Linked DNA regions of Homo sapiens: region 1 is linked to region 2. The links come from fine-mapping of genetic effects on gene expression. A gene starts in region 2. The other region holds a variant in brackets. All regions are shown on one strand. Distances are from middle to middle.

Region 1 (5,378 bases), 49 kb before region 2:
GAAGGGGCAGGGTGCCTGGGATGGGGCGTGGAGGCTGGGGGATCTTGAGAGTGCTGAAGGTCAATGAGAAGTGGGTCTGGGCAGTGCAGGATGGTCAGGTGTTCTGTCATCGCTAGTATGACTCGGCCCCACCCGGTGGAGAGAGGTCTCAGGGCCCACTGGAGGCAGCTCCTACCCATGACCCCTGCCTCTGCGTTGGCATTCAGTAGCCCTTGATTTATCCCAATGCAAGAAACAAATTTTCAATAACTGGTAACATTCTCCGGGAGTGATATGGGCCAGAGCAGGCTGGTTTTCAGGCTGCCTCCCTGGTCCTGAGATTGCCAGCTCAGAGGAGCATCCCCTGAATGAACTGTCAGCAGGATGTGAAGGAAGGACATGCTGGAGCCACTGCTGTCCTCTCCCCTGCCGCCCAGGCTTGACCAGGTGTGGTGCTGATAGCAGGCTGCAGGAGCTGGGAGGAAGCAGTGGAAATGCCCTTCGTGTTTTTGCCAAGCAGCTGGGTTGTGGGCTAGCTGCTCCTTCCGCCTATGTCCATCATAGGGGTTCAAGTGGCTGGGGCTCCAGGCTAGCTGGGTGTCCTCTGGAATCACTGTGAAGGGCCAAGAAGACTCTCATCCCACCCTCCAACTCTGAAGGTAGGGGCCATAGTCTGCCCTCAGCTTTTCCTGTGAGTCTTAGCCTGGAGCAGGTGAGTTCTAAATTCCCTCCCATTGTCTGTCCTGGGGACCTTACACTGCAGGGCTTGGGAAAAAGCTGGTTGGTTTCAGATCATTCAGATAACTCAGGCTTAGCTGGACCCAGGACAGGAGAGAAAGGATGCATTCAGGCCCCGGCTTCTGGGTTTGGCCATGAAGAGTGAATTCCTGCCCAGTGTCTTGCCAAACAGGCCCAGCATAAAAGATCCAGAGGAACCCTGAGCAGGCAGAGGATACACTAGGCCCAGGATGGACAGAAGCCTCTACTTCAGAGCTCATCCATAGACCTCTTTTTAAGAAGGTAAAGAAGGAGCTGTTGTTGCAATTTCATAGATAAGTCAAAACATATTATTATTAATAATAGCATCTTCCACTTTTTTGAGTTCTTATCGTGTGCTGGGCTTCTGTGCTCAGTGCTTTACATGCATCATCTCATTTAATCCCCATGACAGTTCTCCTAGGCAGGTAGCCTCACAAACCCATTTTACAAGGCCCAGTGAGGTTGTGGCAGTTGCCAAGGTCACACAGCTCAGAACTCAGGCCTGTCTGACTCCATAGCCACACTGCTATTTAAGGAGCTAGGTTAGCCAAGGTCACAGTCAGAGGCATTGGAGAGACTCAGGCCAGGCCCCCTCACCGTCAGCTCAGGATGCTGGATTATATGCTACTGAGGACCTGGCAGTGTCCAACAGCTCTGAATGCCAGATTCCTGAGGAGCCAGCGTCTCCCCAGCCTCAGCTACTCCCTGGCTGGCTGGGGCCCTAGATCTGAGTGCAGCATCTGCATTTCCCAGGCTGTGAGAACTACAGTGCAACCCTCCTCTGTGTTGCTGGAGTGAATGCCCTCAGGGCAGGCAGCTTCCAGGGTGGCACCTCATATAAATCCAGGGAGTGGCCGAGGCCTGCAAGGAATCTGGCTCAACACCTGCCATTTGGGTCTCAGTTTTACACATTTTGATCTTGCACATGATTTCACTAGGGCAAAATTAAGTGCATGAAGGAATCACACATTCCTGGGTCTCGCCCTCAGTGATGCAGAGTGGGTAGGGACCTGGGCTATGGGGGCCCTGTAGGTATTCTGCTGCAGATGGGGGCACCACACTTGCAGCTCAGAACAGAGATAAAACCAGATAAAACTCCGCTTTATGACTGCTTTGCATCACTTTCCAGCTGGCCTCATCTGAACAGGGCAGAAAGTTCCTAATAACAATAATCAACGTCAGAATTAAATGTGTGTCATGCTCTGCTGGCACAAAACTCTTTTCAATGCATTCTTTCTTTCCTTTGGATCCCAGTGTCAAATACCCGCTTGCCAACATAGTTTGTTTGCTGTACACAGGTTGAAACTGCAAAGGTTTTCAATTTTAAATTTAGCTAATATTTTACTTTTTTTTTTTTTTTGAAATGGGATCTCGCTTTGTTGCCTTACCTGGAGTGTAGTTGCGAGATCATAGCTCACTGCAGCCTCCAACTCCTGGGCTCAGGTGATCCTCCCACCTCAGTCTCCTGTGTAGCTGGGACTACAGGTACACCACCATGCCCACCTGGATAATTTTTAACTTTTTTTGTAGAGATAAAGTCTTGCTATGTTGCCTAGGCTAGTCTCGAACTCCTGGGCTCAAGGGATCCTTCCCCTTCGGCTTCCCAAAGTGTTAGGATTACAGGTGTGATCTGGTTTCTAACTTCTCTTAAAGTGTTGGAGGTCTGGCTATTATAGATCTTCTGGATGGCCTGACATCCATTGCCTGGAGGGAGTGGTGACTGCCTGTCTGGAGGCAGCTGGCTCTCTCCCTATTGACAGGCCCTGCCACACCCTGGCAATTCTTCCTGGCACCAAGGCAAGAGTCAGTGGGCACCTGTCATCTCATTGCTTTGCCTGCTTCACCCTCTGACAATACCTTCATGAGCCCTGTAGGCAATTGAGCACATGATCTCGATTTCAAATACACAGCCCACTTGGCCTGTGTCCCTCCCTGGTTTCCTTAGATAGCTCTGTGTGAAGTCCTTCTTTCATAATATCCTTTGAAACCGATATTCACCCATTTAAGTGATGAAGCTTCAGGGCTCAGAAAGAGTGAGAAATTTGCCAAAAATTCTACAGCCAATCCAAGCAGAGCCAGGACTCCAAGGTAGGACCTGCGCCCAGGTGTGTAGCCTGTACCCCGAGCAGCTCCAGCACCGCCATCCACACACAAGACACAAATGAGAGCGTGCTCTCCAGACCTGTACAGCGCATGGCCTGCCAAGCTTTAGACCAAAGCCCCGACTCCAATCCAGGGGCCCGACTACAAAGCTGGTATTTTTCTTTACTCCATATCAAGCCCTTGGCTAAGAAATGGGGATTTCCAAGCCCACAGCTGCTCTTGTTTCTCCCCACAGTGCTCCTACATCCCAGGCAGC[G/C]TGGACAATTACCAGACGGCCCGGGCCGACGTGGAGAAGGTCAGAGCCAAATTCCAAGAGCAGCAGGTCTTCTACTGCTTCTCCGCACCTCGGGGGAACGAAACCAGCGTCCTATTCCAGCGCCTCTACGGGCCCCAGGCCCTCCTCTTCTCCCTCTTCTGGCCCACCTTCCTGCTGACCGGTGGCCTCCTCATTATCGCCATGGTGAAGAGCAACCAGTACCTGTCCATCCTGGCGGCCCAGAAGTAGAGCCATCCATCCATGCCATACCACTTGTCAGGGCACAGGGGACTGGCTGGGCCCCCAGGGCTGCTCCCCACTTGCAGCACAATGCCTTCTCCACCTGCCCTCCCACTCTTCCAGTCCAATCCACGCTGTCTTCTGTTGCAGGACTAACCTTTGAGAAATCCTTTTGTGAAGTCATTGCCTGCTCAAGAATGTACAGTGGCTCCCCAATGCCTTGGAGGCCATAAGGCCAGCCAGTTCTAGCTCTCTATTACCTGTCCCCACTCAACTGACTCATACCTGTTTCCGGCTGCATCACTATGTGCCCCACAGAGAACGATGATCGTCACCTCTGTGCCTGAGTTCTCCCTGTTGTCTCAAAGCGGTACCCATCCTCCCCCAGAAGCTGTCCCCAGCGAGCCTCCCTTCTTTGTTTGAATTCTCTAATAAGAGCAACAGCAGCTCCCATTTCTAGAACACATTTACAGTATTACTATTTTCTAGGATATAAAGTGCCATATATATTTTTAATTCCAATATTAATAAATGTATGCCAAACAACAATCAGCTGCAAGGAAACACATGAGAACTCATCAAAATTTTAGCGGTGGGATGGTGGTTAATTTCTGTTTTCTTCCTTATCCCCTTTTTATTTTTGCTGCTTTTCTAAATTTTTGATTATAGGAAGGGTGTGTTTCGTTTGCTTTTAATCAGAAAAGCCATGGTAGATGCCATTTTGGAAAAGTTGAAAGAGTGTGTCCCCCTCACAGAAAAAGATGGAAGTGGGTCTGGGGACGGAGTTGGGTTCCAGTCAGAGACAGGCCATTCAGAACACACAATCTTAAAAACCCCTCTGGGCCGGGCGCGGTGGCTCACTCCTGTAATCCCAGCACTTTGGGAGGCCGAGGCTGGTGGATCACGAGGTCAGGAGATCAAGACCATCCTGGCTAACATGGTGAAACCCCGTCTCTACTAAAAATACAAAAAATTAGCCAGGCGTGGTGGTGGGCACCTGTGGTCCCAGCTACTCAGGAGGCTGAGGCAGGAGAATGGCGTGAACCCGGGGTTCGGAGCTTGCAGTGAGCCGAGATTGTGCCACTGCACTCCAGCCTGGTGATAGAACAAGACTCCGTCTCAAAAAAAAAACAAAAAACAAAAAATGAAAAACAACCCTCTGGAGGAAAGGTCATGATATAGAGGAGGATTTGTTATTTAAATTGAGGGTATGGACTCTGGCACTGAGCCTGCTGGGGAAGCCTATCTCAGATTTGAAAAGGGCAAAATGGGAAGAAGCCATCACCTTTACCATTCCCACTCCAGGAAGTTTTCCTAGAACGATGACTGTCCAAGTGTGGTCCCTGGGCCAGCAGCATCAGGATCCTGTGGCAGCTTGTGAGAAATGCACACTCTCAGGCCCCTGTCCCAGCCCCACCACGCCAGAAGCCCTGCACGGGGTGGGGGTAGCAATGTTCTGTGTTCTAACAATGCGTAGGGGATTCTGTGGCACACCTCGAGCCAGAGAACTACCGGTGTAGGAAGTGAGCGTCCTGTCGCGAGGATTTTCAGAGCAGGTGAGTGACCATTCGGCAGGGCCAGTCCTGAGCTGGGTGTGAAGTTAGGCTGGTGTCTGAAGTTTCTTCCAGTGTTGTGAGTCCAAGATGCAGATCTTGGGTTTGAATCCTGTCTCTACTCTGCCCGATTTCATCTCTTTGATTCTTAGTTTTTTCATCTATAAAAGAAGGACTCTTTCTGGATAGTTGGGAGGGCTGAAGGAATGTTTGACACATCATAGGTGTTTAAAATGGCAACTATAGTTTTTTTTGTTTGTTTTGTGTGTGTGTTTTTTTCTTAACTTTCATTTTAAGTTGCAGGGTACACGTTCAGGTTTGTTACATAGGTACACTTGTGTCAAGGGAGTTTGTTGTGCAGATTATTTCATCACCCAGGTATTAAGTCTAGTACCCATTATTAAAGAAAATGTGGTACGTATACGTCATGGAATATTATGCAGCCATAAAAAGGAAGGAGATCATGTCCTTTGCAGGGACATGGATGG
Region 2 (5,378 bases):
CACATGCTGGAAGATGTTCTCTTTTCTAATAAACCATCTACTAAGAATATCCGTTAGTCATGTTCTCTTTTCTCCTGAAAGTCAGGCGTGGGTGTCTGCCTAATGTCCGGGTCCAGTACAGTGTCTTCTGTGTGCTGAAAGACAGTCGGAGTTTCTCTTCTTCCTGTGGTTTTGTGGGCAGTGTCGTTTTGTGCCAACCTGCTGTCTGGGACTGATGAGCGCTCACCCAGCCACCCTGAGACTTGGTGGTGGACAGATGCACCCTGCTTCCTGAGATAGGTGCTGGGACCCACAGGGTGTTGAACAGATCCCTCTGGTCATGAAAATGGCCCTCTGGCAGCCTCTCAGTGACCTGTGTAAACCAAAAATAAAATTCTAAGTCCCCCAACCATCTGAATGGACCCCTCGCCTCGGCCAATAGCCTTCCAAAGTTAACCTGAAAAACTAGTGCAAACCGTGGTGGGAAGGGAGGGTCGAACGTGCCTCATTATTTCCTGCTCCCTTTTGGAACTCAGGCACAACTGACCAGCATTAACATTAAAACAGACCTTAGGATTGACAAAGCTGATTCTTTGTAGCAATAAGACACCAAATTCCAGCCTGGCTGTAGTATAGCATCACATGACAGAGAGCAGGCCCTGAAAAAAAAAAATCAAAGTATTTTGCCCCAAGTTATGTTTATTTGCTGTATCTCAAAATAGTCCTGCAAAGCTGTCTCTTGTGGGGAAAATCTATATTTCGAAGAGAATCCCCTTCCTTTTCGTGCTCCAGGAGAGAATTAATTCTGATAAGAAACATTTACAACCTATTCTCTCTGAAGCCTGCTACCTGGGGCTTCCTCTGCATAATGGGAACCCTGGTCTCCACAACCTCTCATCTTAACCCAGACATTCTCTTCTGTTGATTCTAGGTCTTTAGATGATAATACAACTTTTTCAACCAATTGTCAATCAGAAAATCTTTGAATGTATCTATGACTTGAAGCCTCTGCTTTGAGTTGTCCTGCCTTCCCGGACCAAACCAACGTACATTTTCTATGTATTGATTTATTTCTTGTATCTCCCTAATATATATAAAACCAAACTGTAACCTGACCACCTTGGGCAGGATCTCCTGAGGTCTGTGTCACGGGCTATTGGTCACTCATATTTGGCTCAGAATAAATCTCCAAGTATTTTATAGAGTTTGACTGTTTTTGTAGACACCTGGGACAGGAACTCTTGGCAGAGCAGACCCCTGGAGGCAGCACCCCTGCTGCTGTGCCTGCTTTCAAAACCCCATGGCTCGTCCTTCGTCCCCTCCTCTCTGTCTCTCTGTGACTTGAAGAAGGATGAAAGGCGGCCTGCAGGTGGACCACAAAAGTGGGAAGCATCATTCCCACCCAAGAAAGGAAAGAGAACAGAAGACGCCTGATCAGAGCCTTCCTGAGGTCTCATCTCCCCTATCTCCGGGGAGCTGAGAACCACCCCCAAGGATTTGGTGGGTCCCCTCCCCAACAGGCCCCTCCACCTCTGGTGAAAGAGCTCTGCCCACTTCTCTGCTTAGTCTGAGCTGATAGGAGGGAAAAGGAGAGCACTGTATGAGTCACAGGTCTCATTACCTCCCCTCATAGCCCAGGGGAAGGGGAGATGGCAGAGGCGGGTAGCAGGCAGGGCTGGGGATGTGCCATGGGGTTCCCCTGGCTTCTCCCCACAGAGGCTGAACCTCCTGGGGGAACATTTGAAAGCCTCAGAGACCAGCTATGGTGCCAAATACTAATGGCCTCAGTTTCCCTTCCTATCCCCCACCTTTGCACGAGTGTGAGTACTCACCCCCCGTCAACTATGTGACCTTGGGAAGACCCCTCTGAAAGACCTCACACCATTCATGTTAGTCCTCCTTCCCCACCTCCCCACACCATCCACACACCACATGCATCAAGCCCCACCGACTTCAGTCCTCAGCATCCTCGCCCCTCAAGAGGGCTGAGAAAAGGAACCATGCTCTTCACGAGCCACCATACAGACGTGGGAATTCCCCTGAAGGTCAGAACCACAGCTCCTTCTCAGCAACTCCTTCTGGCCCCAGGAGTGGGAGGTCTCATGGTCCCAAACAAAACGGAATTGCCTGTGACTCATACCCAGCCCTGCCTATTGAGAAATCTACTTCCGGTGTTGGGGGTGTGGGGTGGTGCGGAACTGGAGCCAGGAAGGGGTGTGTTTGTGTGTGTGTGTGTGTGTGTGTGTGTGTGTGTGTGTGTTCCTCAGCTTCCTGGCTACTGAGTCTTCTCAAGACCAGAGCTCCCTGGCTTTTCAGAAAACCAGCTCTCAAATCATCTAGATCATCTATCCCCCTTACTAGGTAGTCCAGTGTGGCCCAAAGCCTATTTGGACTTTTTTTTTCTTAAAGGAGAAGAAAAAAAGAACCAAGTGAAAACAGAAAATAATTCAGCCACGTGAAGCTGAATTATTATAGCTGCCCCATGTGAGTCGGGAAAGAGAAGGGTGCTTCCTAAAACATGTTAGACAAGGCACTCTGCGGCTTAGTCCCATCCTCCACGCCCCGAAGTCTGCAGCTCTCTCATCATCTTTGCTGCTTGAGTTTTGAGAGGGGCCCAGTGTGCCTTCTGCAAAGCCTGTGCCACTTGCTTCGAAATGTGGCTGTCTCTGGAGGGTTCTCACGAGTCCCACGCTGGATCCTGAGGGCACAGAACTGAAGCTGTTTCAGTTTTTGGTTTGCATGTTGTTGTTACTGTCGCAAAAGGGAAATATCAACTTGGATATTAACAAAATGGAGAACTGAGACCCACCCTGCGATTTTTGCCATTTTCTCATTTTGGTAGAACAAGAGCAAAGAACAAAGGCGCCTTCTAATGGCATAACCTAACTTTTAAGGTAACAGCATCATTATATGTTTAAAGCAAGAAAAGAAGAGGAAATAATGTTTGTCAAAATCTATCATGTGTCAGACATTTTACCGAACTTTCTCCCCTAAGCCCAATGACATAGGTACTTGTGTCCCCATTCCATGATGGGGAAATGGGGGCTAAGAAAGGTGCGGTGACTTGGTTAAGGTCATACGTGTAGAGATGAATGCTAGAGAAAGGATTCAAAATCAGGTCTGGCTGTTGCTGAGTTTCCTGTATTTTCCAAGTTCTTACACTTTCCCTAACTTCCCTGCCTTCATCTCTGTCCTCTCCTCTGCTTACTCTGTTCTTTTCTGTTCCTCAAACACACAAAGCTCATTCCCACATCAGGACTTTCTGTCTCTCTTTGTTTGGCTGCTTCCTTTCTTATCATTTGGGACTCATCACAAAGGCCACCTTCTTGTAAGGTGACCTGACCATTCCTTTTAAAGTAGTACCCTCTGGGATATTGCTCTGTTAATTTACTTTACAGTACTTCTCACTCACCTACTTTGTTTATTTCCGTAGTCTGTGACCCCCTACCCACCCCTCACTGACCCTGCAACAGACACTAGAATGTAGGGCTAGTGAGAGCAGAGGCCTCTTCTTTCTTGTTCTTCTCTATATCCAAAGAGTCTGGAGAAATGGCTGGGACATTGAGGACATTCAGAAATATTTGTTGGATGGATAGGTGGGTGGGTAGATGGATGGATAAACAGGTGGGTGAGTAGACGGATGAGTGAGTGGGTAGATGGACAGGTGGATGGGTAGATGGATGAGTAGATGGATGGATGGACGGATGGGTAGGTAAATGAATAAAATGGTAGATGGATGGACAGGTGGGTGGGTAGATGGATGAGTAGATGGTTAAATGGACAAGTGGGTAGGTAGATGGATGAAAGAGTAGATGGATGGTTGGATGGGTGAGTAGGTAGATGGATTAGTGAGTAGATAGATGAATGGATGGATGGGTAGATGGATGGATGGATGAAGATGAATGAGTTGGTGAATGTACGTATGTATGAATGTATGGTGTCTACTATATGGCAGGTTCCAGTGAGGATGTAGAGATGAATAAAATGATGTCTCTTTGATCCAAATGTTTGCTTTGAAATGAGGGAGACCTTCTCAATAGTCAAGTAGTTGCATCAAAGTATATTAGGTGTTCTGAGGGAATATCAGATCTCAAAAGCACATTTGGGATAGAAATGAGGAAGGGATCCATTTTTGCTGCTGGAGGGTGATCAGAAAATGCTCTATATGGGAGATAACACTGTATCTGATCCACGAAGGATAAGTGGTTATTATTCAGGTAATCAATGAATTTAAAAGCTTCCCTGCAGCCTAGGAAAAGGGAAAGAAGCTGAACACAGTCTTAGAGTCTAAAAACTGCAAGCTATTTGGTGTGATGGGACAAGAGGTGTGAAAGATCTGGTCTTGATTGCTACTGCATATTCAGTGTTTAGCATTCAATTACCCTACTATTGGCACTTCATAATAGTACTCAAGAATAGGTCCTCAATAATTATTTGTTGAAGAAAGGAACAAAAGGAGAGCACAGGGAAAAGTAAAGCTGGCAAGATTGACCTGTGCTGGGTACTGCTGGGCTAAGGAATGTAGATGCTAGTCAGAGGAAAATGGACCATCACAGAAGGGTTGATGAGATGCATGTTTCTGATGGTCACCCTGCTAAGCACAGGAACTGTGTTGGGGAAAGTCCAGGAAGTGGCAGGAATAGACAGAGTGGACTATGGCTATGGTCCGAGTGTGGGATGTTGAGGACCTGAGCTAATCAGGATAGTGTACGTGAAAAGGTAAAGAGGGATTCTAGAGACTTGAGGAAGGTAGAACTAGAGTGCTATCCATGGTTCCATATGGATGAAGAAGGGAAGAGGGAGGGAATATAAAGAGAAGAATTTTCCATGCCCCTGCTGGAATGACTAGATGCTAGCCACTGGAATACAAAATGTATGGGGTGGGGTTCACCATGAAGCTAATGAAGGTTATGTGCGAGAATCCCTCCCTTTCACATCCACTATCAAGGTCCTAAACCTACTCTTGTATTCATTGTTTTCTTTTTATTTATTTTTTCCTAAAGAGCCCCTTCCTGGCCAATTATAGAATCCTCAGGCTCCACCAAGCCTGGATCTTCCCCTGGAAATACAAGGAGAACAGTTTGGGGGAAAGGATTCCATTTGGATTGTGAATTCCATTTGGGGCATGGTAGGTTAGAGGTGGATGAAAAACCTTGAGGTGGAGATGTTCTGCAAGGAGCACAGTGTGGGACAGGGCTTGAATCCTGGCTTCATGCTGTGTGGACATGGGCAAGTTGTTTGAGCTCTGTGCTCAGTAAAATGGGATGTTAATGATAGTACACCCTGATAGGGTTGTAAAGATTAGATGAGACAACATAGGTCAAATGCTTAGAACAGTGCCTAGCACATAGTGAGTGTTGAAAACAAGTTGCGTGTTGGCTTTTGGTATTCTGTGGGGC

Alleles and levels. Positions count from the first base shown, and alleles are read on the strand shown. Sizes are in standard deviations (SD) of each study's normalised expression.
With allele G in place of C in region 1, the expression in uterus of the gene that starts at base 2,093 in region 2 is lower (large effect, 1.2 SD a copy in GTEx).

What was found. PIP is the estimated chance that this variant, and not a neighbour inherited with it, causes the effect.
Region 1: its variant is fine-mapped to the expression of LINC01366 in uterus (GTEx, PIP 0.95).

What each region holds. Positions count from the first base shown.
Region 1 is chr5:170,376,672-170,382,049 of GRCh38, reverse strand. It overlaps KCNMB1 (potassium calcium-activated channel subfamily M regulatory beta subunit 1), which reads left to right. Exons shown (of 4, transcript NM_004137.4): 4 at 3,077-5,378. The coding sequence ends at 3,346. It also overlaps a transcript of KCNIP1 not described here. Among named protein-coding and RNA genes, the nearest start is that of KCNMB1, 10 kb to the left of the region's middle. The variant G/C (reference allele first, on the strand shown) is at 3,098.
Region 2 is chr5:170,328,108-170,333,485 of GRCh38, reverse strand. It overlaps LINC01366 (long intergenic non-protein coding RNA 1366), which reads right to left and starts at 2,093. Exons shown (of 2, transcript NR_108025.1): 1 at 1,909-2,093; 2 at 1-352. RefSeq lists enhancers at 1-25, 1-791, 1,857-2,026, 1,591-2,790.